2 separate regions of the Homo sapiens genome follow, and region 1 is linked to region 2. Evidence: fine-mapped expression QTL. A gene starts in region 2. The other region holds a variant in brackets. All regions are shown on one strand. Distances are from middle to middle.

Region 1 (15,914 bases), 660 kb before region 2:
CAGTGTTTTCTCATGAGTAATAAAATAAATCAATATAGAATGAAAATATATTAATTTTTAATTTCATCCATGTACTAAATTCCAGTGGATTCATTGTGTAGTTGAATTATACATTATGTTTGCTGGGTAAATGGAATTATGAAATTACCTTTCTCTATATTATCTTACTGGGGGCTTCATTGATTTGCCTTGATATCACAGAAAACTAATATGTAGTGAGTATTTTTTTGTTTCTTGTTTACTAACTTGTTACTGGTCTATCATAACAAGACAAATACAGAATATGTTATCTTTTACCTAATATTTTTTCAAAACACCTAAAATAATTACATTCAGAGATTTCAAATGAATTGAACTCTGTACATTTGATAAGAGAAATGCCTTTAACATGGTGTATTAGTCAGGGTTCTCTAAAGGGACAGAAGTAATAGGATAGATGAATATATGAAGGGGAGTTTATTAGGAGAATTGACCCACAGCATCACAAGGTGAAGTCCCACAATAGGCTGTCTGCAAGCTGAGGAGCCAGGAAGCCAGTCTGAGTCCCAAAACCTCAAAAGTAGGGAACCTGACAGTGCAGCCTTCAGTCTGTGACCGAAGGCCCAAGAGCCCCTGGTAAGTCATTGCTGTAAGTCCAACAGTTCAAAAGCTGAAGAACTTGGAGTCTGATGTTTGAGGGCGAGAAGCATCCAGCACAGGAGAAAAACAGAGGCCAGAAGACTCAGCAAGTCTGCTCCTTTCATGCCTGCTTTTATGCTGGCAGCTGATTAAATGGCGCCCATCCAAAATGAGGGTAGGTCTGCCTGTCCCATTCCACTGAGTCAAATGTTAATCTCCTTTGGCAACACCCTCACAGACACACCCAGGAACAATACTTTCCATCCTTTAATCCAATTAAGTTGACACTCAATATTAACCCTCACATTATTTAGAAGAAGCTGTACCTTCAATTTATATCAATAGCCAAGACTTCTGTAGGCTTCAGACCTATGTATCAATGTCTCTTGAATCTCTCCACCTGAAAACTGGTTTCTGGCCAAACTGTACCTCTTTTTGCCGCCTTTTAAATTTTCATCCCATGAGGGTCAACACCTTCTACTAAACAACTAGTTCCACACATCAACTTATAAAACCTAGCATTGTCTACTTCATATCCTATTGATTTTACTTAAAAATAATTAAACTCTATCCACATTTCTGACAACTATCATCTGTGTAGTTTTTGCTATATTACGTTATGCCTAGACTGCTGAAATATAGGTTTGACCATTTATTTAAATCTCAATCTAGGAAATTTATGAGAATGAAAGAGGCCCCCTCTAAAATTACATATTTTTAAATATTTATCTCTTTAAAAACAATTATTTTTATGCTGAAACTGTAAAATAATTTCTAAAAATAAAAAGTGGCATATGTCCATGTTCATAAAGCAAAAGTTTTAATATCGATTTTATAGATTATATTAATGTTAAAAATATAAGCAGAATAATTATTCTTGAAAACTGTTCATATTATTTATTCTTTTTTTTTTTTTTTTTTTTTTGAGACAGAGTTTTGTTCTTGTCGCCCAGGCTGGAGTGCAATGGCATGATCTTGGCTCACTGCAACCTCCACCTCCCAGGTTCAAGTGATTTTCCTGCCTCAGCCTCTCGAGTATCTGGGATTACAGGCGCTCGCCACCATGCCCAGCTAATTTTTGTATTTTTAGTAGAGATGTGTTTTCACCATGTTGGCCAGGCTATTCTTGAACTCCTGACCTCAAGTGATCCACCAGCCTCAGCCTCCCAAAGTGCTAGTATTACAGGCATGAGCCACCATGCCTGGCCCACTATTCATGTTCTTTAAGCAGTTTGTTATCCATGTCTATATATAATGCCACTGAAATTTTTCTTAATAATTTATTTTTTAATACTGTTTAATTATTTTCAGTTTTCATAAAATTACGTGCAATCTTCTTCAAAGTTGTATCTTATGGCTAATAAATTTGGAATTTTTGAAAATTTAGGTTGATTTTCTATGTGGACCATTATATTTTGAGTTAAACAAATATTCTCTTGGTCAGGCATGGTGGCTCATGGCTGTAATCCCAGCACTTTGGGAGGCTGAGGTGGGCAGATATCCTGAGGTCAGGAGTTTGAGACCACCCTGGCCAACATGGGGAAACCCCGTTTCTACTAAAAATACAAAAAATTAGCTGGGCGTGGTGACGGGGGCCTGTAATCCAAGCTACTTGGGAGGCTGAAGCAGGAGAATGTCTTGAACTTGGAAGGCGGAGGTTGCAGTGAGTGGAGATCTCGCCACTGCATTCCAGTTTGGGCGACAGAACGTGACTCTGTCTCAAAAACAAAAACCAAGCAAACAAACAAACAAAAAACAACAAATATTCTCTTTACAGATGTAAGATGCCCAGTAAGACCTGAGCAAATTTTGCTAAACGGAGGTTATTGTTTATTTTATTTTATTTTTTGGTGTTCAAATGTACAAATATTTCAACCTAGATATTTTTAACAGGCTTTATCTTATTGTCTGCATTTTAAAAACCTTTCTTTCATATGTATTTCATAAGAAAATAACTTGTTAAAATGGCCAGGCATGGTGGCTCACGCCTGTAATCCCAGCACTTTGGGAGGCTGAGGCGGGCGGATCACGAGATCAGGAGATTGAGACCATCCTGGCTAACACGGTGAAACCCAGTTTCTACTAAAAATACAAAAAATTAGCCAGGCGTGGTGGCAGGCGCCTGTACTCCCAGCTACTCAGGAGGCTGAGGCAGGAGAATGGCATGAACCAGGGAGGTGGAGGTTGCAGTGAGCCGAGATTGCGCCACAGCACTCCAGGCTGTGTGACAGAGAGAGACTCCGTTCCAAATAAAAGAAAAAATAAAACAAAAGAAAATAACTTGTCACATAAGTGTCTCTTTTTTATTCTTTTGTGTATTTCACCAAGTTTAAATCTATAGGTGTTTTATTCAATTTTAGTAGAAATTATAAATTAATTTGTTAAAAGACCTACACCAAAAAGTTCATCCCACAAATTTAAGTATTTCAAAGTAAAATTATAGTATTCCAAAATTATGTACATCATTTGAGCTCTCATTTCTTAATTTATTCAGTCATTACCTTGGTTATGTAGATATATTTTAATGCCTTTCTGTGTTAAGCATTGTTTTCCATTTTACTTTTCTATAAGCCTGAAAAGCTGCAGTTTTTTTATTGCTCTATTTGCAGAACATTTTGATTAAAGATTTCCAAACTTAAGTTTGAACAAAATGAACCAAAATTTAGAGGCTTTGTGTTTTTTTAAAGAAGTTCAGTTCACTGTAAGCCTTTTAGGTTGTTTTGCAAACTAATTTTTCCAAGTAGCAAACATTTCTTAAAATCCTATTGATGATGAGCAGCAAAGAGAAAAAAAAGCATGTATTGCTATGCTGAAGTGTGTTATAACTTATTTAAGATCAACTTTATCACAAAAATTTTGTAGTTTACCTACTCTGTACACATATAAAAATGTGTAAATTTTGACACCTACATTCTCTATGTTGATTATAGAATATTGTACTTTTTCAGTTTGCAATTAATTATGTGTCTACCAGAACCACTTCCAAATACAGCATATGTCTGTTTTTGAGCTCATTGTTGCCAGAAGGGTTTCTAGATCAAACTACATTAGCCCAAGTCTTTGCATCCTTCTTTGTATCCATACCCTTGGCATCCTAAGCAGATTGTACTTTCCCATCCTTTGATTTATTTTGGCCAGTGGCATATAGACAGATTTGATAGTGTGCTATTAATATTTCTGAGCCCAGGCTTGAAGAGATCTTCGGTAATTGTGCTTGCCCTCTTAAGCTTTTGCTATCACCATGAGAAGAACATGTCCTGATCTAGCCCACTGGTACCAGGAGAAGAATGAGAAACACATGAACTATTATGTCAGCTGAATGGAGCTCAGATCAATGGATTCAGCTGCTACAGTCTGATGCAAAGCCTATTGTGTCCAGAATTTATTCCTTCCGGTGGGTTCTTGGTCTCCAAGAATGAAGCCGCAGACTCTCGTGGTGAGTTTTGCAGCTCTTAAAGATGATGAGTCTGGAGTTTGTTCCTTCAGATGTTCAGATGTGTCCAGAGTTTATTCCTTCCGGTGGGTTCAGGAGTGAAGCCGCAGACCTTAGCAGTGAGTGTTACAGCTCTTAAAGGTGGCTCGTTCGGAGTTGTTTGTTCCTCCCGGTGTGTTCGTGGCCTCGCTGACTTCAGGAATGAAGCCGCAGACCCTCGCAGTGAGTGTTACAGCTCATAAAGTAGTGCGGACCCAAAGAGTGAGCAGCAACAAGATTTATTGTGAAGAGCGAAAGAACAAAGCCTCCACTGTGTGGAAGGGGACCCAAGCAGGTTGCCACTGGTGGCTCGGGTGGCCAGCTTTTATTCCCTTATTTGGCCCTGCCCACATCCTGCTGATGGTTCCATTTTACGGAGCGCTGATTGATCCATTTAACAGAGTGCTGATTGGTGCATTTACAATCCTTTAGCTAGACACACAGCGCTGATTGATACATTTACAATCCTTTAGCTAGGCACAAAAGTTCTCAAAGTCCCCACGGCCCAGAAGCTCAGCTGGCTTCACCTCTCACTGTCATATATTTAAATTCAGTTACTTCTCATTACCACCCAAGGCCTCACTCCTGCCCTCCTCTGATATACCATCATCTCACTCTTGATTATTGATTCAGATATTAGCTGGCCATCACGTAGCCATGAAGATAAATGTTTTAAACTGTTGAATTTGGGGGTGATTTATTAGGGAGCATTATTGTTAATGTGGCATGGCCAATTGATACGATAGATTTCTTAGCTGCAACATTGTGTTTACCATAATCCTGACTCCACCAAAATTTGTATTCATAATTTCACTGTAAAAATGAACCTTTAAAAACTGTGTCTTAATGTATCTAAATGTACCTTAAATGTTGAACTTTTAAACTGATTTTACATTGATGTAATGTTGTAAATGACAGATGCTCACCTTCTCTAAAATTTTTTATTGATTTGATTTTGATTCCATGAATTGGGTGGGAAAATATTCTGAAGCATTATTGGATTCAACTAACAAAATTTCTTATTTGAAGCATATAATTACACTTATATAAAACTGGCATTGGAGCTATTTTCTTCACTTTTCATATGTGCATAAAAATTGGGATTGGGCCGGGCGCGGTGGCTCACGCCTGTAATCCCAGCACTTTGGGAGGCCGAGGCGGGTGGATCATGAGGTCAGGAGATCGAGACCATCCTGGCTAACAAGGTGAAACCCCGTCTCTACTAAAAATACAAAAAATTAGCCGGGCGCGGTGGCGGGCGCCTGTAGTCCCAGCTACTCGGGAGGCTGAGGCAGGAGAATGGCGTGAACCCGGGAAGCGGAGCTTGCAGTGAGCCGAGATTGCGCCACTGCAGTCCGCAGTCCGACCTGGGCGACAGAGCGAGACTCCGTCTCAAAAAAAAAAAAAAAAAAAAAAAAAAAAAAAAAAATTGGGATTGAAAATAAATTATTTAGAAGAACACTCATTTGTTTTAAATGAAAACTCATGCTTTTCAAAATGGAATGTAGCAGCTGCAGGTATTAAATTGTTGTCTTTGGAAACATTCTTAAAATAATGATTGACTTTTTTTTTTTTTTTTTTTTTGGGACCGAGTCTCGCTCTGTTACCCAGGCTGGAGTGCAGTGGCACAATCTCGGCTCACTGCAAGCTCTGCCTCCAGGGATCATGCCATTCTCCTGCCTCAGCCTCCCGAGTAGCTGGGACTACAGGCGCCCTCCACCAGGCTCGGCTAATTATCTTGTATTTTTAGTAGAGACAGGGTTTCACCGTGTGAGCCAGGATGATCTCGATCTCCTGACCTCGTGATCCGCCCGCTTCAGCCTCCCAAAGTGCTGGGATTACAGGCGTGAGCCACCGCACCCAGCCAGTGATTGGCTTTTGAATAGATATTGATGGTTTCTCAGAGATTTGTGTTTTCTGGTTTTCTAGTGACTACTGACTTTACTGTGGTCCCTATGGTGAATAGTAATCATGGATAAACTTTTTTTGTGCAAATTTATATTATTCACTTGTTTTAAAAATGGAAATGGATATTCAGTACGATTTTTTTTTTTTTTTTTTTTTTTTTTTTTTTTTTTTTTTTTTTTTTTGCTCTGTTGCCCAGGCTGGTGTGAAATGGCTTAAGCGTAGCTCACAGCAGCCTTGAACTCCTGGGAGTTCAAGTGATCCTCCTGCTTCAGCCTCCTGAGTAGCTGGAACTACAGGCAACCAGTACTAAATTTTTTATTATACATGTTGTCTTAGACCATTTGTGTTGCTATAAAGGAATACTCAAGGCTATGTAATTTATAAAGAAAAGAGGTTTATTTGGCTCCTAGTTCTGCAGGCTGTACAAGAAGCCTGGTGCCAGCATCTGCTTCTGGTGAGAGCCTCAGACGGCTTACACTCAGTGGAAGGCAGAGCGGTGCTGCTGTCTAGCGATCCCATGGCAAGAGAGGAAGCAGGGGCAGGGAGGTGCCAGGCTTATTTTAACAACCAGCTTTCCTGGGAACTAATAGAGTGAGAACTCATTTACTACAATGACGAGTGCACCAAGCCATTCATAAGGGATCTGCCCTCAAGACCCAAACATCTTTCACTAGGCCTCACTTCCATTATTGTGGATCAACTTTCCACATGAGGTTTGGAGAGTCAAATATCCAAACTATAGCACTTGCTTTTCATGTTTTCAGTTCATTGCTACCAAAATCTATTGCAAACTAAAAAAGCTTTACCAAACAATAAAATAAATATTTATAGACTTACAATAAATGACCAAATTACTGTACCAAGAGATTATATTCTCTACATTATACAGTAGAAATATCATATATAGCTAACCTTTCATTTGCCGTATTTCCTGTTGACCCTGCTGACTGTTGACTGGTAATTTCGTGCATTGTCCAGTCTGTGGTATTTGCCATGACAGAGCTGGCTAGTTTACCAAGTGTCTGGCAGAGGCTGCGGCTTCAAAACTTCTCCCATCACCACCTGAAACTGCAAAGAGTTGACTGTCTTAGCCACTCACTTCCAAATGTACTTGGTTTTCTCAGTGAGCATACTATATGCTGTTTGAAAGGGAGATGTTAGTTTTACTAAATATGGAAAGGCTCTAGAAAAGGTAGCTATTGCATATTGTTTTAAATATATAACCATGCGCCTGACCAACTGACAAGCTGGGAATACAAAGAGTAGATCTAACTCATCTCTGATTATTTTAATGCAAATATTGATACAAATACTTTGATAAAAATAAAAAATCCTGGACAAATGCTAAACAGGAGTAAATGAAGATTGTCCAAGCCAAATTTTACTTGAGGTCACTTGTATGCACACACATGCACACACACAGACACACACGCAATTGGCTCCTAATTGGCCTCCTTTAATCCGTTCTTGCTTTCATTCCAAGCAGTTTTTTCCAAA[A/C]GAAAGAAACAAGAATCAGAAGGGCAAATAGTAACAAAATATCTCTATAACTGACCACATGAAGAGGTGCCCTGAACTCGCAAAGACAAGCATCTATTCTGTGGGTTTAGTGTAATCTTAAGGCAAAAAGCTATTTATCAGTTTTTCAGGCATGATGGCAGTAGCCATTATAATCATCCATCTAATGTTTTGGGTTCACAGTAACTTTCTGATTATAACATTGCTTCTGACACATATTTTCCCCAGGAAGAGAATGTGCTGATTAGCAAACATGAGTATCCTTTCTTCTTGATAACGCAATTCTTTTTTTTTTTTTTTTTTTTTTGAGACAAAATCTTCCTCTTGTTCCCCAGGCTGGAGTGCAATGGCACGATCTCGGCTCACTGAAACCCCCACCTTCCAGGTTCAAGCGATTCTCCTGCCTCAGCCTCCCGAGTAGCTGGGATTACAGGCGCCTGTCACCATGCCCTGCAAATTTTCGTATTTTTAGTAGAGACAGGGTTTCACCATGTTGGCCAGGCTGGTCTCAAACTCCTGACCTCAGGTGATCCACGCACCTCGGCCTCCCAAAGTACTGGGGTTACAGACGTGAGCCACCGTGCCCGGCCGATAATGCAATTCTTATTTTAAAATAACAAATGGGCTCTCTGGATTAATAAACAGTCAAAAATATTTTGAATACATATTCCTTTGGAATATTGCCTTCTATCTTTTCCTGTTACAGTACATTCTAGAAAGAATAGCCTTTGTCTCTGATTTCTCACTAATTCATTTATTCAAAAAATGTTTATACAGAACGCAATACCTGATGGTGGGAAAACTTCCAGAACATACATTTAGACAATTTTTGAAATAGGACCAAGTCCTGTGTACTTTCCATTGCATTACAACTTCTTTAGCTTTGGAAATATTTTCAATTAATGCAATGAAAGTGAATGGAGTGCTTAATCACTTCATTATTTAGGGATTTTTGCCTTTGATTCAGTGACAGATTGAATATTATTGAAACTGTGATTTAAAATGCTGAAGAAATTAACCAGAAAACATATTGCTAATCATCCTTTCATATCTTTTTCTATTTTCAAAAAAATTTTCCAAACTACAGTACTTTATAATAAAGTCTCTTATTTCTACAAAATCCTGAACTGTGCCTGTTCGTTTAACTGACTCACTCAATGGCCAAATTGCAACATATAGATTCTAAAGAGAATTTAAGATGTGAAAAAGTTGAATATGATTTGGGCTGCCTTTCTTTGGAATTTATTTATTTCCTACGCCACCTGAAAACCTTTAAAACTTCCAATATACTAGGTTTTTAATTCCTTGAGCATCTCTGCTCAAACTCTTAATGTGCACACAAATCACCTGGGCTGGGGATCTTGTTAAAATGTAAATCACAATTCAGCAAGGCTGAGGTGGGGCCTGAGAGTCTGTATTTCTGACAAGCTCCCAGGAGTCGTGGATACTGCTGATTCAGGGATGCATTTGAATAAGAAGGCTCTAGAAGACAAACCAAAATGCTAATAATTTGGAATGTTTTATGAATGTATCAAAAACATACAAATTTTGATAAGTATCCTTGGTAATATATATTGATGTGCTCTCAGGGGTAATCTGTGGGCCCAGCATTGCCTAGGAATGTAGGACCATCAAAATGAGCTTTCTGTTTTAAAAACAGAGTATACCCAAATTATTACAAACCAGTAAGTTAATCACTTGATGTGCGTTATTATCAGGTATTTAGGTATGTACAACTGTGTTAACATAAGTGATACATTTATGGCTTATCTAGTTTTCTTGGCTGTGAACGCTAAACTCAGTTTGCATACCACGTTTGTGAAAATATTTTTAAATATGGAAAGTAGTCAAGAATTCATGAACAATAACATTGATGTCCAATGTGTATGTACTCTTGTATGGTTACAAACGATTTATTACTATAAATATTTGTTACTTTCCACTTGGTTTAATTATTGGATACTTAAAAGAAATTTTCTATTATGTAACAGTTTAAAAATAACTTGTTGTATTTTCTATTTTTAAAGAAAAACAATCTAGTATAAAATGAAAATTATAAAATATCATGAAAGTAATGTTTTATTATCAATTAATATGTTGAATGAAGTATATAAGGTCTTTCAGCCCACATACTGCTTCTTCCAGCTCCCAACAAACATCAAAATGCCTTGATATTACCCTGCTATTTTAAGAAAATGGGCACTTAAATAACTCAGTTCTTCTATTTCTATGGTAATCAGAATGCTCAATTTCTATTTGATTTTTAAGTTAAAGCAGTCTCATTTGCATACGTACAATAAAAGTTTTTGTGTGTTGCTAGGATCATTTCCATAATTCTATATTTTTCATCTTATCATTCTTGACCCTGACATTGTGCTATAATTTGCAAAACTAAAATCCATTCAGAAATAATCATTGGCAGAAAAAGTAAAAGCCAAGAAGACAGATACCACATTTAATGCAACTTTGCTTTTTCACAGTAACCCAATGGACAGGAAGAAAAGCATCACAAAGTGGTTCAGCATAATGGTAGGATTGATTAACTTGCTAGAAATAGACAGAGTTTTTATCCAAGTTTGGATTGGCTCATACCAATTACTGTATGATTTCACTTGGAAATGGAGCCAGCTACAAGTAGCTATGTGCCTAAGCTGAATACAAAAATTGTACCTATGCCATTACTCTCCCTTTTTGTCTAGAATACACTTATATACATAGCAAAAGCAAGGATAAATAGAAACAGCAATACTTATAAAAATACTTTTTCAATTCTTCCTGGAATGTTTGTGTTTTACAAATGTCTCTATACATTTTATTTTTTGTAAACAAGAGTCTTATTCTGCGTGTCTCTTAGTATTCTAGCAAACATTTGTGCCATGTTCAATTATGAATGCATTCCTTTAATTGAGACGATTGAATAAATTATATGCTTAGGTGATGAAAGCACTTTCTTTTCTAAATAAGCAGTTTGATATAAAATACTTCAGTAAGTAACTTATCTGTATTTTACTGAATTTAGAAATTTATATCAGGAACTTTTATCTACAGGAGCTACATACTTCTTGTACTAATTTTTTTCTGGAATAAGACAGTGTGACCAGATGAAGTCAAATATAATTTCCATGCAGCTTTTTCTTACACTCTGAAGAGCAAGCACTTAGGCAAATAAAAGCAAAACTGTACCTCAAAAAGCCACATCCTCAATGGATGTCTTTTAGAGGAAGCACTATTTTTTTTTCCAACCAAAACAGGATACTTACAGCCTTCAGAGATAAAATAGCAGAACTTACCAGTCTCTTAGCATCTGAAACCACAGTCTGTACCTGTCATTTATTGTTTTGTAAATGAACTAAAAATAGAAGATGGATGGGCTGTGTGAAATCCATAAATTCTGTTAATGGCCTACTAAGAAGCCATGTGTTTAGGACACTCGATGTTACTCAATGATTCTCTTTCCATGTTGTTTTAAAGAGAGCTCTTAGAGCACTTGCTTATTTTGTCATTTTATTGCTACCTTGACTTCAAGGTAAAATAATGATTTTAGCTTATTTAGTTTCTTTCTATAAATGCACTCAGCACATGATTTTGCCTTCTAATTCCACAGAAAGTCAAGAGTTCTCAATTTCCTGTCCCTCCTCACTTAACTCCATGAAAACAAAGCTGCGTCCACATCAGTTATTTCTCTTTCTAGTCTCAGGGGCTGTGCTTATGTCCAAAACTGATGCTAATCAATGTTGTTCTCTGGATATTTGTACACCCTCCTGCTCAAGATAATCTCTCTACCAATTTTCTCTCTCCCCTCTTCCTTTCTCTCTATCAGCTCTCTAACTCTTTATTGCTATCACTCCATCTCTTTATCTCATCTCTATCTTTCCTTTTGTCCTATATTTTCAACTTCCTCAGCTCCACTGGCTCTTTCAGACCCTTTGTTTTCTGAGTGTAAGCACTCTTAGTCACTTCTGTTCTGAAAGTATTATAACTGCCCCTGTTTCCTTCCTTTTGAAACAAAACTTCTTGAAAGGGTAGAGCACTCTAAACATATCCATTTCTTCACTTCCAATGCAATCATGAGCCTGCTGCAATTTGGCCTCTGACAGTATTTAAGACACCAAAGATGACATTAACTCCCTCCACATAAAACAGTTTCTAGGTAATATTTAACTTGGATTATGTGGCATTTGCTAGACAGTTGAGTATTTCCTTCTTAAACTTTCTTTTTTTGGCTTTCTTTTTCGTTTCCTACATCTCCTTCTATCTCTCACTAGTCTTGAAACAAAAATATTTAAGTAAAATTAGTAGCAGAGCTGAACAAATTCTTAGACATAAAAGAAAAATGAATGCCAATCTGATTTAGAAAAAAAAGCCGTCAAACTGCCCAGACCCTAAAATTATATATGAAAAGCAGTCATTAGCTAAACTTCTAATTAGTTAAATATATAAAACTATAATTTTATTTTCAATTATCACCATAGGAAGAACTGTTTTATTCTACTCACATGTCATTGGGTGGAAAATACTGCTAGTGTTGCTTGAACTGAACAGGCCAGGAGAAACCACTGAACAGGGAGAGGCAGCCAAACTTTTACAACATTGGTAATGATTATAGGGAAGAGGTGCTAGACTCTGGATTGTGTCAGTTTTCTCTTTCTCAAAAAAGGAAGGTTTAAAAGGAACTAATCTGAGACATTTTTTAAAAAAGCAAGTTAATATTTCTGTTCCTGCTAAATTCTACATCCAACTTTAATGAGGAAGAGGATATTTGTTTCCTAAGATTGCCTTAACAAAGTACAAAAACCAGGTAACTTATAATGACAGGAAGTTATTTTCTCACAGTTCTTGGGGACAGGAGCCTGAAATCAAGATGACAGCAGGGCCATGTTTCCTCTGAGGCTCTAGGGCAGGATCCTTCCTTATCTCTTCTAGCTTCTGGTGATTGCCGTCAACCTTCGGTGTTCCTAGGCTTGTTGACGTATCACTCCAACCTCTGCCTCTGTCTTCACATTCCTTCCATTTCTCCTGTGTGTGTATCTATCTCTGTGTTCCAATATCCCTCCTCTTTGCCACCTTCCTCTTCCTCTTCCTCCTCTTCTTCTTCTTTGTCTTTGTCTTGCTCTGCCACATAGGCTCTGGAGTGCAGTGGCATGATACAGCTTACTGTAGCCTCAACCTCCTGGGCTGAAGCAGTCCTCCTGTCGCAGCCTCCTGAGTAGCTGAGACTATAGATGCATGCCACCATGCCCAGGCCTGGCCGATTTTTTTTTTGTAGTAGAGACAAGGTCTCCCTATGTTGCTCAGGCTAGTCTCAAACTCCTGGGCTCAAGTGGTCTACCTGCCTTGGCCTCCCAAAGGGATTGCAGGCATGAGCCACTGTGCCTGGCCTACCTTCTTTTTATAATGGCACCAGTCATATTAGATTCAGAGCTCACTCTACTCCAGTATGAACTCATTTTAAGTTGATTACCTCTGCAATTTCCAAATAAGGCCACATTCATGGGTTCTCAGGAGACATGTATTATATGGGGATACTATTTAACCCAGTATATTTTTTTTTAAAAAAATGACTGATCACACAGTATTTTTCTGCCTCTGCAAACCTCACTAAAACAATATTAAAACAATAAAGTAATAAAAAAGAGCTACCATAACAAATACAAAAACAAAGATACCCATTGGAAACTGACAATACAGGAAATAGTTTTTAAAATTTGAAAATAATCTAATATTCTCAATGAGATATTACAAGAGTAGGATGCTATGGAAAGGAAAGAAAAGAGAATAAAACTATGATAGAAATAAATAACATTATAAAAGGACTGAAAGATAAAGCCAAGGACCAAAACTTAACACACACACACACACACACACACACACACACACACACAGACACACACAAAATGTGAAAATAGTAAACATAGAAAAGAAAGGAAAAATTCGTGAGGTTCAGCAACTATTTTATATAAAATATATAGAGAAAAGAAAAAACAAAATAGATTAACTATCAAGAACTGTAAAAAACAATTTTTAGAAAGACATGAATCTCCAAATTGTAGGTGTCCAGCACAAGTGGCCCATAAAAAAATAAAGGCAGACCTCACAAATCACATAAAATGTGACATTTCAAAATAACGAGCATCAAGAAGAAAAAGCTTCTAGAGAAAATAACAAAGGTCACCTACAAGAGACAGGAAATCCAAATTGCATTAGCCTTCTCAAAAGCTATAATGAAAGATAGAAGACCTTGGAGCAATGTCTTCAAAATTATTGATGAAAATGATATTTGATGAATAATTTGATAGCCAAATTATCAATCAATGATGAGAATAAATTAAAGTCATTTTTAGAAATGCAGAAATATATGTCAGTTACTAATTCATGGGAAGCTATTGGAGGATATACTTGAACAAATAAGGAAGTAAATTAAGAAAGACAGAGGTAGTATTCAGCAAAAATGATCAATTCTAGAAAAATATCAGTAAAATTTTAAGGATGACAATAAAGGGAAATTCCAGGACAACTGCTGTGTGGCTTTCCTAGAGAGCAACCTGTCCACAGTGGATCAGAAGAATGGAGAGCTCCAGTCAAGTATTCTTGATAGAGACAATTTCCTAAACCTGATAAAGGGCAGCTACAAAAATCTCACAGTCAACACCATGCAAAATAACAAGAAAGGATGTCTGCTCTCACCACTTTTAGGCAGTATTGCACTAGAGAGTCAAGCCATGGCAAGTAGGCAAGAAAAAGAAAAGCATCCACACTGGAAAAGAAGAAGTAAAACTAGTTCTCTTTGCAGATGACATGATGTTGTATATATATAGTAAATACTAAAAAGCCCACTAAAAACTATTACACGTTTACAAGAGCAAATAATAAACAAGGTTGTAGTATACAAGATTAATATAAAAAGATCTATTTTATTTCTATATACTAGCAATTAACCACCTGCAAATGAAATTGAGAAAATAATTCCACTTACTCTAGTATCAAAAAAATAAAATTCTTAGAAATAAATAACAGAAGTGCTAAATGTATATTTTGAAAACTATGAAATAGAGTTGAAAGAAATTTTAAAAAACCTAAACTTATGGGTTGCAAGGTTTACTTATTGTTTGGATTATTGGATTATGTATTATTTGGATATATAATAAAGATGACAATGAATGTTTGTTATTCATTATTATTTATTGTTAAGATAGCAATTATTTATTAAGATAGCAGTATTGTTAAGATAGCAGTACTTCCCAAACTTATCTACAGAATCAATGCAATTCTTAACAGAATAACAACAAACTTTTTGCAGAAATTGACAAGCTGATTCTAAATTTCATATGAAATTGCAAGAAACCCAGAATAGCCAAAATAATTTTAAAAAATGAAGAGCAAAGTAAGCAGATTCACATTTTCCAATTTCAAAACTCGCTGCAAAGCAATGGTAATTAAACAGTGTGCTGGCACAAGAATAGACATATAGACTAATGGAATATAATTGAGAGACCAGAAATAAATCTATATACCCATGGTCAATAAGTTTTGACAAGAGTGACAAGACCATTCAATGGGGAAAAATATTCTTTTCAACAAATGGTGCTGGGACAACCAGATGGTCATAGGCAAAAGAATGAAGTTGGACATTCACTTCATACCATATGCAAAAATAAATTCAAGATATTATATATCAAAGACTTAAATGTAAAAGTTTAAACTCTTAGAAGAAAACAAAACAGTAAGTCTCATGACCTTGGATTTTTCAATATGACACCAAAAGTATGAGCAACAAAAGAAAAAATTGCAAACTGGACTTCAATAAGCTTTATGCTTCAAAGAACACTATCAAGAATTTAAAGAAACACACTACAGAATAGGAGAAAATATATGCAAATTATATACATGATAAGGGACTTTTATCTAGAATATTTAAAGCACTCTTACAACTTAATAATAAAAGACAAATAAACAAACTAAGAAATGGCTAAAGTACCTGAATACACATTTCTCCAAGGAAGACATACAAACAGCCAAAAAGCAAATGAAAAGATGCTCAACCTCATTAGTTATCAGAAAAATGCAAATCAAAACAACCGGAAGATGCCACTTCACACCCAACTAGGATGACTACGTTTAAAAAGTCAGATAATAACAAGTGTCGGTGAGAATGTAGAGAAATTGGAACTCTCATAAATTACTGATAGGCATGCAAAATTGTCCAGTCACATTAGAAAACTGTCTGGCATTTCCTCTAATAATTAAACAGAATTACCAGTAATTCCATTTCTAGGTATATATGCAAGAGAAATGAAAACATGTCCACATAAAAAGTTATACATAAATTTTTATTTGTTTGTTTGAGACAGGGACTCACTCTGTCACTCAGGCTGGAGTGCAGCGGTACGATTTTGGCTCACTG
Region 2 (15,914 bases):
TATTCCTTTGTTTCCTTTCACTTTCTGGGAATTGAAACTGTTGTCATTTTAAATCAACAATAAAATTATATTAAAAATAAGGGGCAGAATTAGAATATGGGCACTAGATATCTTATTAAAATAACAGAATACTCAACTTTTTTTTAATTGTATGGAGACTGATGGGAAACTGAATTCATACACTGAGAAGAGCTACAGAGAATAAAAAGAACAAATTAATATGTGCATTTAGAAAGCAGAGGGAATAGTAATATAAAAAAGGAGTTAAAAACATAAAAGTAGAGATAAGTAGTGTTTCACAGAGTTTTCTGTAAGGGTAAGTGCACGAAAAATGGCAAGATGGTTTTAAAAGATTTAGAATTCACAAAGTAGAAAGTGACAGAAATTGAACTACTCACTTAAATTTAAAAAGAGACGGGGGGATAGATTCAGCTACTTGATGGCATGAAATCAAAGTACTTGAATTTTTGAAGTGTATTTAAAAATCTAGTAAAGAATGCCTACAATTACAAAAGGTATGAGATTGTCTTTTTGAGTTTAGTAGAATATAAACTGACGACAAAAGACTGACAGGCACCAAATAAGTAGAGTGTAAAACAACAACAAAAAAAAGAAAGATAAATTCAGGTAATGATATTCAAGCAGTATGACTGCATAAGATTGCATAAGAAAGAATACATTTCCAAATCCAAAACAATATCATCCTGTTGTATTATATGCATATATTGAATACAATAACAAAAGTATCAAGAGTTCTTATTAAAGCACCCATTATCATTTATGTAAAATATTGCAAGACTTTAAAGTCACAGAACAAAACATATTTTTTCCCCATTATCTTTTTTGAGATGATCACATTTCTTCACACTTTGTGAACTGCGTAGTTAAGATGGAGCAATGATTTGAACTATTTGCAAATGCAGTTCCTTCCCCACTCTTTATATACTGTTTGGGCCATGAATCTATGGAAAGAGGTGTTTTACAAGAACGAAAGTCACATCATTCAGGACTTTCTAGCATAAAATGATCTAATATGCTTAGATTTAAGTGGTCAGATTTTGCCCCTTCCTCCCTTTCCTCTCCATGTTCCCAGATCATTTCCAGAGAGATAAGTAACTAATTGACAGTGTTGTTTGAGAGTAAATTCCTGAGTTATATAGAAGTTGGAACAATTATTCCCTCATAAAACTAAAACAAATTCTACAATAGTTACATGAAATGCAGAAGCACAATCAATGAACATTAATTCTTGACTGAAATGAAACAGCCCTGGTGTTTTCATGCAAACTTAGCTGCTATAAACCTAAAAGATGCAATCACCAAAAGATGTGAAGTCTTGAGGTAAAGATTAGCACTATAAATGCCATTTGATATCAGATGAAATATGCATTTCTGTACATGTGTTTAGAAGAATCTAAGCCCCTAAAACTTCTCCTCACTAACCCCAAGATGCCTGAATTTCTCAACATTAAGTTTTCACATCGTAATACAGTTTTCTTTCCTGGTGTTTCCTCTTCTCTCTGCCTAGTAAAGGATGTTATAAAATCGCAGTTCAATGTTTTTTTCTCTTCTTGTATTTTCCACTCTGCTGGTTATGGCCAATGAGTCAAGATTCAAAGTGTTCCCATATATATCTCTGCAGCTCAAACTCTCCAGAACTTGGGCTTGTATTTCCAGTTACTGGACTTAAGCTGGGCACACCCACAGTGTCCCTGGACTGGGTGAGGAATGCTGGAAACCACTGCATAAACATGAAAAATCATTCCGTAATTTAGGCAAAGTTTGGAGAGAGAGTCACATTTTATAATAGTACAAATACGAACCTACAAAAGAGTAGAATCCCAGACTGGGCCAAGAATGCTGGAAACCACTGGATAAACATGAAAAATCATTCCATAATTTAGGCAAAGTTTGGAGAGAGAGTCACATTTTATAATAGTACAAATACGAACCTACAAAAGAGTAGAATCTAAAATCCACATGAATCTTTAGACGAAAACTAGAGATGAAATAAAGTTGCTCTTAGTGGGGTTAGGTGAGTATGTCATTGTTAGAGACAGTGATAGAGAAGTCTAAGAAACTCCATACTGTGCTAAATAAATCCACCTTTTAAGTGTGGATTCCTATTTTTGTGGGCTTTTGTTTTTTATTTTACATTCAAGGGGTACAACTGCAGATTGGGTTAACATTTTTGTGTGAATATTGAAACAGTTGTGAAAGGAAGTTTATTAATAGGAATGACCACAAACTATGAAATAGACTGAATTTGTGTCTCACCATGTCATCACCATCTCTCAACTCTGCACAGACCCAGTGCTGTCCCTGGCTCTTGAAGACACTGGTTTCTTAACCTCAGCTTCATGGATAAGTACATTTTGTCTTTTCTTCATTGATATGTGCTCTCCTGCATTCTGTTATTGTAAGACATTACTGTGAATGTAAAGAGATAATCATTTAATACTATCAGTAAGAATTCATATATATTCTTTTTTTTTTTTTTTTTTTTTTTTTTTTTTTTTTTTGAGAATGCAGTCTCCCTCTCTCACCAGGCTGGAGTGCAGTGGTGTGATCTCGGCTCACTGCAACCTCTGCCTCCTGGGTTCAAGCGATTCTCCTGCCTTAGCCAAGAATTCATATTAAAGCAGTCGTCATTTAATGAAATTTTGGACACCCTCACTTCAGGCACATCTGCTATCAGGCAAAATTCTACTCAGCTTTTACACTGTGTCAGACAATGTGCCAGACACTAAGAATGCAAATAAAACATAGAACCTGAAAAGTTGTGTTTCTTCAAAGGATACATGGAGACATAAATAAAAGCTGTGTTGATAACAGAAATAAGAGTCATAAAATGCTTCCAAGAAAGAAAGTGGGCTCAGAGGTATTTCTTTCAGGGTGAGCAGGTGTAGACCAGGGAGGGAAAGAGTTGTATTTCAGGCAAACACAAGCCATGAAATGGCCTAGTGAGAGAAGGAAAGTAAGCCGTTCAACTCTGGAAGAAGTAAAGGGTTGAAAGGAGAAGTGAAGACACAGGCCTGACCCTTAGGTAGGACCCCTGGCTCAGCTGTCCCAGTCCCCAGACATGGTGGGAGATTGACTCAAGTCAATGTACCTTACTGCCCTTACCTGAACATCATTACATTTCAATGTTGAAATTCCTGTTTTTAATTATATTCCAAGGGACCTAGAATAGATGGCATAAAGGGGCCTCCTTTCAGTTGTGTTAATCTTGGAGAACCCACATTAGCTTTGTTGCCCTGGGTTCCAATCTCAGAAGTACATGGAGAAATATGGCTGAACAGTTAAAAAGGGTGGAAAGGAGGATCCAAGCAAGATAAGGAGTTTGGACTTTGCTGTGTATTTCATGGGCGGCACTGGGGGGTTTTAAACACAGAAAAAAGGAGAGGTTTCAGAAAGGTCTCTCTGGCATCACAATAGAGATTTTTGAGGTAAAAGACAGGGAGAAAGAAAAACAAACAACAATAATCGTGGAGTAGTGATATTGACAGACTGAACTAAGAAACAGTGTGGATAAGAAACTTTATGCTCTACAGTACTGCAGTCAGCAGAATAATGGTCCCTCTAAAAAAGGTACCACAACTCTATCTCTTATTAGTAGTGTGATTTGGGGCAATTTAAAAGCCCTGATCCTCAGTTTCCTCATCTGTAAAAGAAAAAAAAAAAAGAATAGCAATGTCTTAAGTCAGGATCCCCAGGATCAAACCCTGAGATGAAGATTGTCTGCAAGTGATTTATTATAGAAATGCTACCAAGAAAAACTCATCAGGTACCACAGTAAGCAAGATAGGGAAGAAGGTGGTTTCAGGCAAAATATTAACATCAATATAATTCTATAGGGGAGCCTCAGGGTGTAAATTACACCTCAGGTTTTCTTGCTACTAGAGGCAAGACGGCTGGTCTTTTATACTCTATAGGAAAGTCCTTGGCAAAGGGTATCCTGGGAAAGAAGTAAACTTGCAGGTGGTTCTGTCTGGCTCTCTATGCCAGTACACAAAGTGAGTCTAGTAGTGTTTGGGCCTTCCTCCAAAGAGATTCTCGGGGCAGGCTGTGAGAAGTAAAAGAACACAGAAGCTAGAGGAAGGATACTCAGATTCAACCAAAGGGATCCTAGGAGATCTGGGTGGAGACTATGTCTGCCACAAGCATCTATCTCATAGAACTCTTCTAAGAACTGAATGCATTCATATCTTTCTTTCTTTGGCTTTTAGGATTCCTAAACTATTTTTCTTCTGGAATAGCATGCAATATTTAGCACTCTGCTCTACACTCAGAGTGCTCAGTGATGAAATAATTTTTTCTTGACATAGCATCAAATCCAAAAAGGGTAAAGGCAGTGGAGAAATTAAGCGAATATGAGGAATACCATAAGAGAAAGAAAAAAAATCTGATCCCAATTTCTGACTCCAAGGATAGTGCTTTCCTCAGGGTTCCACTTTTATCAGTTAAGATCCAGTCAAAGGGTATTGACTATTAGGACAGGAAAAAATCCCACTAAAGAATACAGTAATAGTGGTTATTGGGAACAGCCACTATCTCTCAGGCTCTAGGAGAGTACCCAAGGAGGGAATAACTGAGTAGAACTTCCCCCTACCCACCCTCCACCCTACTAAGCCTGAAAGTAGGCGCTCATTGGAAATAATATGGCTGTGGTCCACTTAATGATCCAGAAATTTAAGGTGTCACACACTGGGCTGCTGAGGAAACCATCAGCTGTGTTTTCAGTAAAACTTGCTAGGAAGCCATTCCACTGACATGCCAGTGGTACTCCATAGAAAGACACATACTAGGGAACTGGCCAAATTTACTGAAGATTATGTAACATGGCCTTCTTGCACACCACTGGTCAGAAAGTCACTCACTGGCCACCACACCGTAGGAGCAAGCAGGAAAGCACTGGAACCAAGAAAAGGAGCCCCTTTCTTTCTGCAGTGTTCCCCTAGCACCTTCTATTGACAAAGCTAAACACTGTGCCAACTGACCATAAAGACGTTTACAGATTTCAGCTCTAATGTCACAATTTAGGGCAAAGAAGGGTAGCTGTGAAGTTGAAGAGCACTAAGTTAACTGGCACTGACCTCAGTGACACTCCTGGGATTTGGGGGATGGGAGGAGCATGCTGTTATGCCCAAATCCTGCTCCGTTTGTTTACTTTTTTCCTAATTGTCTCTGAAAGAAAGAGCAGGCCCAATCTTTTGGGACACTATGTAGTGAGAACTGGTATGACACATCGTAAGTGCACAGAGAGTTCAATTCAGTAACTGAGACAAAGTCTAGAGCCGAACCACTTGGGTCTGAACGTTAGCTTCACTATTAACAAGATTTGTAGCCTTGCAAAAGTTCATCCTTGTATACCTCAGTTTCCTTACCTGTAAAAGGAGATAACAGTACCTATTTTATCAAAATGTCAGGAGAAATTAAGTATTATGTGTAAAGCCTATAAAACAACATCTTGCATGTAGTTAGAACCTAATAAATATTAGTATATTCCATGAATGGTAGCTTGTCATTTGGTTTTACAATATGTATATATTCGGTTCTCATGATGAGTTTCCATTTAGAACTATGCCTCATAATGCTAACACTCAACTTCTCTGGGTGAGATTAGGCTTTGCTATCAAGTCTTGCCTACTCCTGGGCATTGCCTGCAGCTCTGGCTTCAGATCCTGGCACTGCCCCTGGCTCACTGAATAAGCTTCAACTAGTGCAGCCAACTTACGGAGGATCTGTTTTCTCAAGTGAAAAAAAGACACAAGGTTAAACAAATCATCTTTTTTTAAGATCTCTTCCAGTTCTGACTACATTTGATCCCCCTCATCCCCAAGTAGTAAGTTATACCTAAGAGGGAAAGAGGAGGGAATTATCATTTCGAACTCCTACTCACCTGTGCCAGGAGAGCACTGCTGTGACTGATTTCCCTGATTTCATCCTCACCACAGTCCTAACAGATTAGTATTGTTAAAGTCCATTTAACAACTAAGAAAGCTGAGGCTCAGGAAGGTCAAGCAGTTTACTCAAGATCATATTCTCAGTAAGCCGCAGAGTCTGGATTGAAACCTGGTCTTTCTGTTTGGGTCGACTCAACATTTTTAACCGTATTGTTTGCCTCCTACATCGCCTTCATCTCAGACATTAAGAATCCTACCTATTCAATGCTTTTCATCCTCCGCTTTAAAGAGATAAGTGGGTGCACAACTTTTTTTTTGCCTGAAACATATCATCTAAAAGTTAAGCAAATGAAATTCATTTACCAGTTACAGGAATCTTTTTCTTAAATCACTGTTAATGTCTCACAGGAAATTAGCTCTTCAGTGGAAATCAGCAGCCTCCCTGCATCCTTTTGCCCCTGTCCTCCCCTCTCTTGGATGCAAACCTGGCGAAAAGAAGGGAACACTGCTTGGGGTCAGCGAGCTGAGTTCCAGCTCCGAATGTACCATTTTCACCCTCGGGAGTCTTCTCCCCTTTCTCTGTGAGCAAAGGAGTGTTGGGCCAGACCGTCTTAAGGATTCTTCCCCAGGTACAAGCCGGACTCTGGCGGCTTTCCTGGGCAAGGGAGTGTCTCCGCCTTGTCTCTGCCGCAGGTCCCTGGTTAAATTGTCAATTTCTCTGCGGAGGCTGCTCACTGCATCCGCTCCCTCCACCCCTAGCCCTGTAGACCCCTTCTCTTTCCCCTACTTGGGAAAAGTGAAGCCCCTTATCCTTGGATAGCCTTTCACCAGACAACCGCAGCCGTCCGCTAAATTCCCCTACTGGCGGGACGCGCGGGCGGGGGCCTGCCCCGGGGAATGCGAGGCTGCTTCCCTTCTGCGTAATCAGGGTACGCAGCCTCCAGTTCTCTAACTTTCTCCTTCTCTAAGAGGGAATTTCGAGAACTTTAAGACAAATAAGTGACTATATAGATGAAGACATGAAACCTCTCTACACAGTGAACTCCCCCACGCTACAAGGCTCCCAGGGATCCCAGGCCTTCTCCCGCAATGCCCCGCCGGGTCCCCCGCCCCAACTCCTTCTCACGGCAGGATCCCGCGCCAGGACGCTCGCAGAGCCCGAGATGTGGCACCAGGCGCGCCACAAGTCCAGGTCCCGCTATTTCTGCTCCATCGGAGCCCAGGTCGGAGGGAGTCAGCGCGTCCTCCTCGCACAGGAGCCTGGCGCGCGGCTCGGTCGCACAGAGGCTGAAGAAAGGTCCGCACTGGGCTCGAGGCCCTTCCTGCCGGCCTCCCCACGCCGGGCCTAGGCTCCCCTCCTTCCCGGCTCCCGCCTCCTCCCGTAGGCTGCCAGGCGGACCCAGCCTGCCTCTCTCTCTGCCTTCACTACCGGGTCAAGCTGCGGAGGGAGGGAGGGAGGCAGCGGCGAAGCCCTCCGTGGCTCCCCACCCGGCGCGCGCGCCCCTCCTCCCCTGCCTCCTCCCGTCTGCCAGTACAGTAGAACTAGTACACACACACACACACACACACACGCACACGCACCCTGCCACTGCAGCTGCCATGGATATCAGCTAACAACACACACCCAGGCGCGCGCGCGCGTTCCCACTCGCACCACGCAGGAGTGGCCCCCGGCATCCCTACCCTCCTTCCCCACCCCCACCACACCCGCTCACCAGCTCGGCTACTGCTCGCTCCGGCTGCCGCCGCCGCCGCCGCCGACGCCACCACCACTGCTTCCTCTGCTGCGGGGCCACAGCCTTGAGTGTCATTCAAGGGACAGCACAACCTCATCCAAGCTCTCCTACCTCTGCCCAGCCGTCCCTCTCATCCTCCCCATTCCTCGTCCACACTCCATCCAAAGAAGAGGGAAAGCACCGAATAGAGGGGGGCGAAGGCAAAGTCTGCTGTTCTTCCCCCTGGGCCCCCTTGCTCCTCCATCCTCATTCTCTCACCACCAGCCCCCCTAACCCCAAGGAGCCCAGGAACTGAGGCGACTCGCCCCACTGCCATGTCCAAAAGCTTGAAAAAGAAAAGCCACTGGACTAGCAAAGTCCATGAGAGTGTCATTGGCAGGAACCCGGAGGGCCAGCTGGGCTTTGAACTGAAGGGGGGCGCCGAGAATGGACAGTTCCCCTACCTGGGGGAGGTGAAGCCCGGCAAGGTGGCCTATGAGAGCGGCAGCAAATTGGTGTCGGAGGAGCTGCTGCTGGAGGTGAACGAGACCCCCGTGGCGGGGCTCACCATCAGGGACGTGCTGGCCGTGATCAAACACTGCAAGGACCCCCTCCGGCTCAAGTGTGTCAAGCAAGGTGAGAGCAGCGGCTTGCTCAGTGTTTTGCCGGGCGGTGGGACCGCTCGGGGCGCAGGGCAATGAAAGGGTGGCCGCGCATGTTGAAGGGGGTGTGTTGCGCGATGATGGGGTGGGGGCCAGAGAGCACCCGCAGTGCAAGTGAGTTTCGCCGGGGATTCGACTTGGGGGCTAAAGGGAGGGGAGGGGCAGGTTGTGGTGTGGCGTGCAACTTTGTTTGCTCAGTTAGACCCTCCCCTTTGGAAGGTGCTCGGCCTGGTCTGACCTCCTCAGAGCTGCTGGGGCAAATTGAATGTGCGTCAGTGGCATCACCCGAAGCGGATGAAGAGCTTTTGGGGAAGGGAGGAAGGAAGAAAAGAAAGAAAGAATGGGAGGAAGGGAGGGAAAGAAGGAAGGAGCAACTTCAGGGTGCAGCGGCATCACCAGCGGGTCTGGGAAGAGAAGGTGGTGGGGTGAGCGGAGAACTGCGTCCAGCGTTTCTGGGGCTGGGCTGGGGGCGCCTGGGTCCCCAGCTGTCCCTTAGGGATCCGTGAGCCACCGCTGGCGAAGAAAAGAAGGGACAAATTGCTTTGGGCGCTTTGACGGGTCTTCTGTAACTTTTCCCCTTCTTCACTCCGTGTCCCCCTCCCCCGCTCACGGTCGTGTCATGTGGGCATCGCGCGTCACGTGCGTACTGACTAACCCCTGCGCTCACCCCTAGCCAGCCCGGGGGAGGAGGCTCCGGAAGAAGGCGCGGTGCTAGGAGCGCAGTCTAGTGCTGGGCGGGGGTCGGAGGAGATGAATGGTTGTCGGAGGAGATGAATGGTTGTCCGCATGGACTTTACTCAGGGGTTGCCCTCATTGAGTGGAAGTCCTCTGTGGTTGGGCTCTCCTCTGGCTCCGATTTGGGGGGCGTGTTTTGGGGGAGGAGCTGGATGAAACCCTGGCCGGTTCCAGCCCAGGCTCCCTCAGCTCCAACCTGACTTAAATGAACCTCAATTGGAGGCTGTGATGTGGATTTGGGGAGATTGGAATCATCCAGAACTCCCTGTCTTTGCTCGAAAGAAAATTATGGTGCAGAAGGAGAGAAGAGTGAGATAAAAGTTTGAATAGAGGACAACTTTAAGTAGAATAAAGTAGTAGCTTTTTTCTTTTCTGTTTTCTTTTTTAGCTCACTGCACAATTCGTGTGCGGTATGTATGGATATTTGCGTCACAGGCATATTAGCATAAGGGTTTGTTGTTGTCGTCGATGTACACTGTTTGTCCTGACTCAAAGGTGGAATTGAGCATGTCATTACCTGCATTTTGCCGCTTAATCATGATCAACTACTAAGAAATGCTTTTACGGAGATGTACCGCACTGTTAAATTATTCTCTAAAAAACTTGTTTTAAAATAAACAAGATAAAAAGAAGTACTGGGCAAGGTTTCTTAAATGTAAATTGCCATACAAGAAAATGTTTTCCTTGGGTATTCTTGAGTATTAAGAGGTAATAAATTGAGATAGGTTATTATAAGTCAACATAGCTCCATACTATTTAACACTGAAGGGATATGAGTTTGGTAGGAAGGAAAATAGAGTAACTTGATATTTTTGAAGATAAGATACCTAAGGTTCAAATACAGAGATTCATGTTAACATGTTCGATGTCAAAATACCACCTTATAGGAATAGACATAAATGGAAAGATCTTTGGGTACGAAAAGTCTACTACACAACTAATGACCATGGTTTTGTTGGCCAAATGCTTGATATTTGTCATGGAACGTGGCTGCAAAAGTTAAGCGTTGTTAAATTGGACTTAATAGAGTCCCACAAACGGATGCCCTATTATAGTTTGCAATGATCATCACATCTTAAATGTTGTGTTCAATTCTGAGCACTCCTTGTTGAGGCGGACGTTGGCAAACTGTCACGCTAGCAAAGAGTAAGTTCAAAAGAGAAATAAAGGAAGATTATTGTGTATTATAGATGTATTCTATGAAATGCCGTGGAAAGACTTAACGTGGAGAAGTGAAAGAATGAAAGCTATCATTAAATAGCGAAAAGCTATCAGGTAAGAAAAGGAATTCTGACTATCCTGTGATAGCCCACAGGACAAAATGGTGATAAATCTATGAGAAATTTGAAAGGATGAAGCAGCTTTACTTTCATTAAATCATGAGCTTTCTAACAGAGTTTTCCAAAAATTTGTGAGCACCCTGTTGGCTGAAGTTCCCATCATTGTGGGTATCCATGAAGAGGCTGAAATGACCATATGCCAGGGATTCCTATATAAGATGAGGACCTGGATTAGATATTATTTGAATCTTGCCATAATTTGATCTAATGTGGTTGGAGATCACTCTTGTATTGAATTTTATGTGGAAGATTATTGCTTTTAGAACTCAGAATATATGCTTCTAAAGTGATATATTGAGGGGAAAGTCTCTTTTCATTCTATATTAACCCTCAGTTTCGTGCTTCACTGGTTCATTGATGATAAATTTGTATAATGATAGCCAGAGAGCCCACAGTTGGTTCATCTCCTGAACCACTGCTGACCAAAAACAAAACAAAACAAAATATTTCTTTTACCTTTTGTGGAATAATTAATTCTCTTGTATATTCTTTTAAATATGATTCATGTTGCTATTCTAATAATTCTTTTCCTCGTCAAATCATAGATTAATTTTATTTATGATTATAAAAAATGAAATTTTTCAGAACCTTTACTATAGTGCCTGTGTGTCTTAGGTTTCAATACAGATGTCATTTACTGGAAAATCATTTAGAAACTCTTGGCCCAGTAGTTATGTTTCAAGAGATGCAAAAGCTAGCATAGCTGAAAAACTTAAACATGGTTTGTTTAGCAGTTGCGTTTTTAAAACATTAATGAGACTGATTTTTGAATATTCATTCAGACATTGGGTATTATACAGAAACTACAAGAATTATCATAGTTTAAGGAAGATTTTATAAAGAAAAGGTAAGATTTGAATAATAAGAATATTGTTAATAAGTGCACCAGGTAAAATTGCATTATTTACTTAATTTTATTTACTTGTTTGCCTAATTTTACATTACAGTTATCATAATTTTCATCTGTCATAATTTTAAAAGGAGGTGAGCTCCTTTTAAAATGTTGGGATTTTAAGACATTATATATATATATATATATATGTATATATCTCACAGTGTTTCTACACTGTTTAAATACCTGCAAAACAATTTTTAAAACTGTTTAATGAAATTCAAGGAATTATCTTTTTAATTTAAGCTTTCTGCTTTTAATCCACACAATAATAAACCACATATTAAAATATGGCTTATTGTCACATCCAATTCTTTTTTATAAACTATGGCATTTTATTTGTAATAATAAACTTTCCTCACCAAAGTATGTAATTCTAAATTAGCAGTAATTCTATGATCTCGTTAATGCATCAGACCCAGTTGAAGAAAGTTTTTTGAGTGATGTTGAGATCTATATGGAAGTGCTAAAGGTCTTCTTTCCTTTTTCTTTTCCCTTTTTTAAGGTTTGCCACTAAAGTTCACAGCAGCCAGTTACACAGGCCTTTGTGGCCTACATTCCTTGCACTATGGCTGCTATTGCATCTAATACCACATAGAGACCTACATAACCTGGACTTATTTTCCCATTTAGGGTCTCACAATGGGAAATAAAAGGCAAAAAAAAAAAAAAATTCTAATTCTTCCCATGTGGAAGATGGGCCAAATAAATCCTTTGAAATTCAGTTTTAGAGAAGATCTACATTGCTCTCCCTCCTACTGCTCCTTTCAAAGATACCTTCAAAGGAAAGTAGATCCACATTTATTAAGAGTCATACTTTCTTCTTGACTGACTTCAGGCTTAGAATAATAGAGTCAGATCTCTATACTCCTTTGTATCTGAAAAGGTAAAAACAAATTATGTCAAATTTTCTGAAAATAAAGATTGACTTTTTTTCTGTAGAAATGTGAGGTATATGAATAGTGTTGTTTAATAAACAAAACATTGTTTAAACATTTTGATCAGTTTATTATTTTAGAAATAAAGTACCATTAATGTTTTGAACAAGGTTAATGAGACGGTTCTCTTGGGGCATAATTTATAAGTGATACCACTGTAGTTTTCTGGTACATGTAGATAATTTAAATGGTATGACCTCGAATGTTAAATATGATTATTTGCTTTTTATCTGTACTGTCCCTATTCTTAACATTTACACTGTTTAATCTTTTGGCATGTTTATTATGCTCACTTTCCTTTTCATTGCTTGTAACTCACAAATTCACTTTCATAATGAGAAAAGCATATTCACATTTGACATCTCTGATTGATTATAGTTTAATTAATGACTTTCAAATACATACAGACCCTGGCAGAATCATTTTCCTCAGAAGGTGGGGTAGAGCAATGGTTAAAGGTACAGTCTCCTAAGTAGACCACCTAGTTTTAATTCCTGAGTATGTCAGTTAGTGCTAGCTATATGTACAAGATAACTAACCTGGGGTAGTAATGGCACCTTAAGAATATTAGATAAGTTATGTATTTAAAGTGTGTAGTGTCTGGCAGGTGATAAGCATTATGTAGATTTTAGTAAATGCTATTGCAAACATATTGGTCATTTTGAGCTAGTGACATTATGAGGTGTTTTTAATTTTCAAGATATTTTACTCAATTCAAATTAACTGAAAAATATGAAATGATTGACATTAATATAGAGTATTTTGCAAGTTGTATTTTAAGGTTTTTTTGCAGAATGAAATAAATATTTTATTTGAAAAGAATTTATTTGAAGAATAATATCAATAAATACAATGGAAAATATTTTCACTTTTTAAAAATAACTTCCACTGATCCTCCCTTTATGTGTAAACATCTGCTATTTTATATTTATTTTATACTTTAGACATAGTTTATTTTTACATAGTAATTTGTTTTCTTCATACCGCATATCTTTACTCCCAAAGAATTGCTGAATATATTGAATTATTTACTCTAAACTTGACAACATAGAAATCCTATTAGAATTTATTAAGTTTAGGAGTTTATACTTCTTATATTAATACATCATTGTAGTTAAGAGTAAGTATCATGCTGTTGAACTTTTACTTCTCAGCTAGAAATTAAGCACCTCATAAAGAATAACAATAATAAAAGTTAACTCTTAAGTGTTCACAGTCAACAATGTATAATAAAGAGGAAATGCATCAAATTCAGCAAAAATAATACTTTGCATTTGTGAGTATTGCAATGTAAATAAGTTAAAAGGCTATTTGTATTGCATTTTATAGTATTTTATACTATACTATTTTATAGTATTTTATGGTACTGTTAAAATACCATTAAATTTAAATACTATTTAAATACTATTAACGTACTATAGTACTATTAAAATACTATTTTATAGTATTTTCATACTTTGTATGAAAGAAATGCAATATAAGTAAGTCTGTGTATTAATACTGTTACAAGGTGAAGCAACCAACAATACTTCCACTGCTAGCTTCCCCATAATTTTAGCATTTTCGTTGAATTAATCCTATTTTACAGTTCAATGGAAACATCTACCTTGAAGCTCCAGGGTTCAGTATTAATTTCTAAAAATCTCTCCTAGCTATAATCTGGCTATATATTATGACAACAAACATACAACTGCCTTAGTTTAGTGACTTTATTATTACTTACTCCATTCTATTCTCAGCTCTCTTCTGTCTCTAGTAAGTATTTGTTATATTTCCTTTAATAAAAGTAAATTATCTTATATAGAAAACTTAGTAATATAATAATTGCTGAATTTACATTGTTAAAGACTTGCATAGGGACATACATAGTACAATGTCCATATCATCATAGATAATTAATAAAAATTGCTTTTATTATTACGTCTTACTGACATCTTTGTCAACTCTAAAAGGACTTCATATTGAGATATTTTTAAAAAAGTTAAAATTTGTGTTAAGTTTAATATATATTGTTGACTGTTTTGAGTGGTCTGGAAGAAACAATAAAAGTTTCCTTCTTTGATAAGTTATTGAATATTAACTCAATTGCATCCCATTGATGTACTTTTATTTTTTCACTTATTTATTATTTTTTTTTGAGACGGAGTCTCGCTCTGTCGTCCAGGCTGGAGTGCAGTGGCGTGATCTCAGCTCACTGCAATCTCCGCCTCCCGGGTTCACGCCATTCTCCTGCCTCAGCCTCCTGAGTAGCTGGGACTACAGGTGCCCGCCATCCACGCCCGGTTAATGTTTTTGTATTTTTAGTAGATATGGGGTTTCACCGTGTTAGCCAGGATGGTCTTGATCTCCTGACCTCGTGATCCACCTGCTTCGGTCTCCCAAAGGGCTGGGATTACAGGTGTGAGCCACTGCGCCCAACCCCCATTGATATACTTTCAAAGATCCATTAGGCTAATGAGTGGGTGATTTATATGAATGGCTAGATTTGTTTCAATATTTGAAATAATTAGATGGCTTGCTCTACCTGGGGAAATAATTTCTCCATGTAATCGTTACATGAATCCTTATGAGGTTTTATGCCATTTTTATTTATTTTGGCTTACTTTAAAAAAAAAATCACTGTCAAAACCATGGCAGTTTGAGCCTAAATACTTGCTATACTTTGGATATATCATTGGATATACCCAAACACAGATATGTTACAGAAGAAAAAAATAAACCTTTATAGTGCAAAGAGAGATTTTGTCTATGTTGAATTTTCTTCTTTTTTTAATTGTACTTTAAATTTCGGGGTACACGTGCTCAACGTGCAGGTTAGTTACATATGTATACATGTGCTATGCTGGTGTGCTACACCCATTAACTTGTCATTTAACATTAGGTATATCTGCTAATGCTATCCCTCCCCCCTCCTCCCACTGCACAACAGGCCCAGGTGTGTGATGTTCCCCTTCCTGTGTCCATGTGTTCTCATTGTTCAGGTCCCACCTATGAGTGAGAACATGCGGTGTTTGGTATTTTGTCCTTGTGATAATTTGCTGAGAATGACGGTTTCCAGCTTCACCCATGTCCCTACAAAGGACATGAACTCATCCTTTTTTGTGGCTGCATAGTATTCCATGGTGTATATGTGCCACATTTTCTTAATCCAGTCTATCATTGTTGGACATTTGGCTTGGTTCCAAGTCCTTGCTATTGTGAATAGTGCCACAATAAACATATGTGGGCATGTGTCTTTATAGAAGCATGACTTATAATCCTTTGGGTATATACCCAGTAATTGGATGGCTGGGCCAAATGGTATTTCTAGTTCTAGATCCCTGAGGAATTGCCACACTGACTTCCACAATGGTTGAACTAGTTTACAGTCCCACCAACAGTGTAAAAGTGTTCCTGTTTCTCCACATCCTCTCCAGCGCCTGTTGTTTCCTGACTTTTTAATGGTTGCCATTCTAACTGGTGTGAGATGGTATCTCATTGTGGTTTTGATTTGCACTTCTCTGATGGCCAGTGATGATGAGCATTTTTTCATGTGTCTTTTGGTTTCATAAATGTCATCTTTTGAGAAGTGTCTGTTCATATCCTTTGCCCACTTTTTAATGGGGTTGTTTGTTTTTTTCTTGTAAATTTGTTTGAGTTCACTGTAGATTCTGGATATTAGCCCTTTGTCAGATGGATAGACTGCAAAAATTTTCTCCCATTCTGTAGGTTGCCTATTCACTCTGA

The links. PIP is the estimated chance that this variant, and not a neighbour inherited with it, causes the effect. A credible set is the group of variants that fine-mapping cannot tell apart.
Region 1: its variant is the best candidate, but not a certain one, in a credible set for the expression of MAGI2-AS3 in cerebellar hemisphere (GTEx, PIP 0.58).

What each region holds. Positions count from the first base shown.
Region 1 is chr7:80,102,375-80,118,288 of GRCh38, reverse strand. No RefSeq gene overlaps it. Among named protein-coding and RNA genes, the nearest start is that of GNAI1, 24 kb to the left of the region's middle. The variant A/C (reference allele first, on the strand shown) is at 7,496.
Region 2 is chr7:79,445,363-79,461,276 of GRCh38, reverse strand. It overlaps MAGI2-AS3 (MAGI2 antisense RNA 3), which reads right to left and starts at 8,320. Exons shown (of 4, transcript NR_038346.1): 1 at 8,086-8,320; 2 at 7,622-7,690; 3 at 2,278-2,430. MAGI2 (membrane associated guanylate kinase, WW and PDZ domain containing 2) reads left to right here and starts at 7,610. Exons shown (of 22, transcript NM_012301.4): 1 at 7,610-8,257. The coding sequence starts at 7,957. RefSeq lists an enhancer at 8,870-9,164.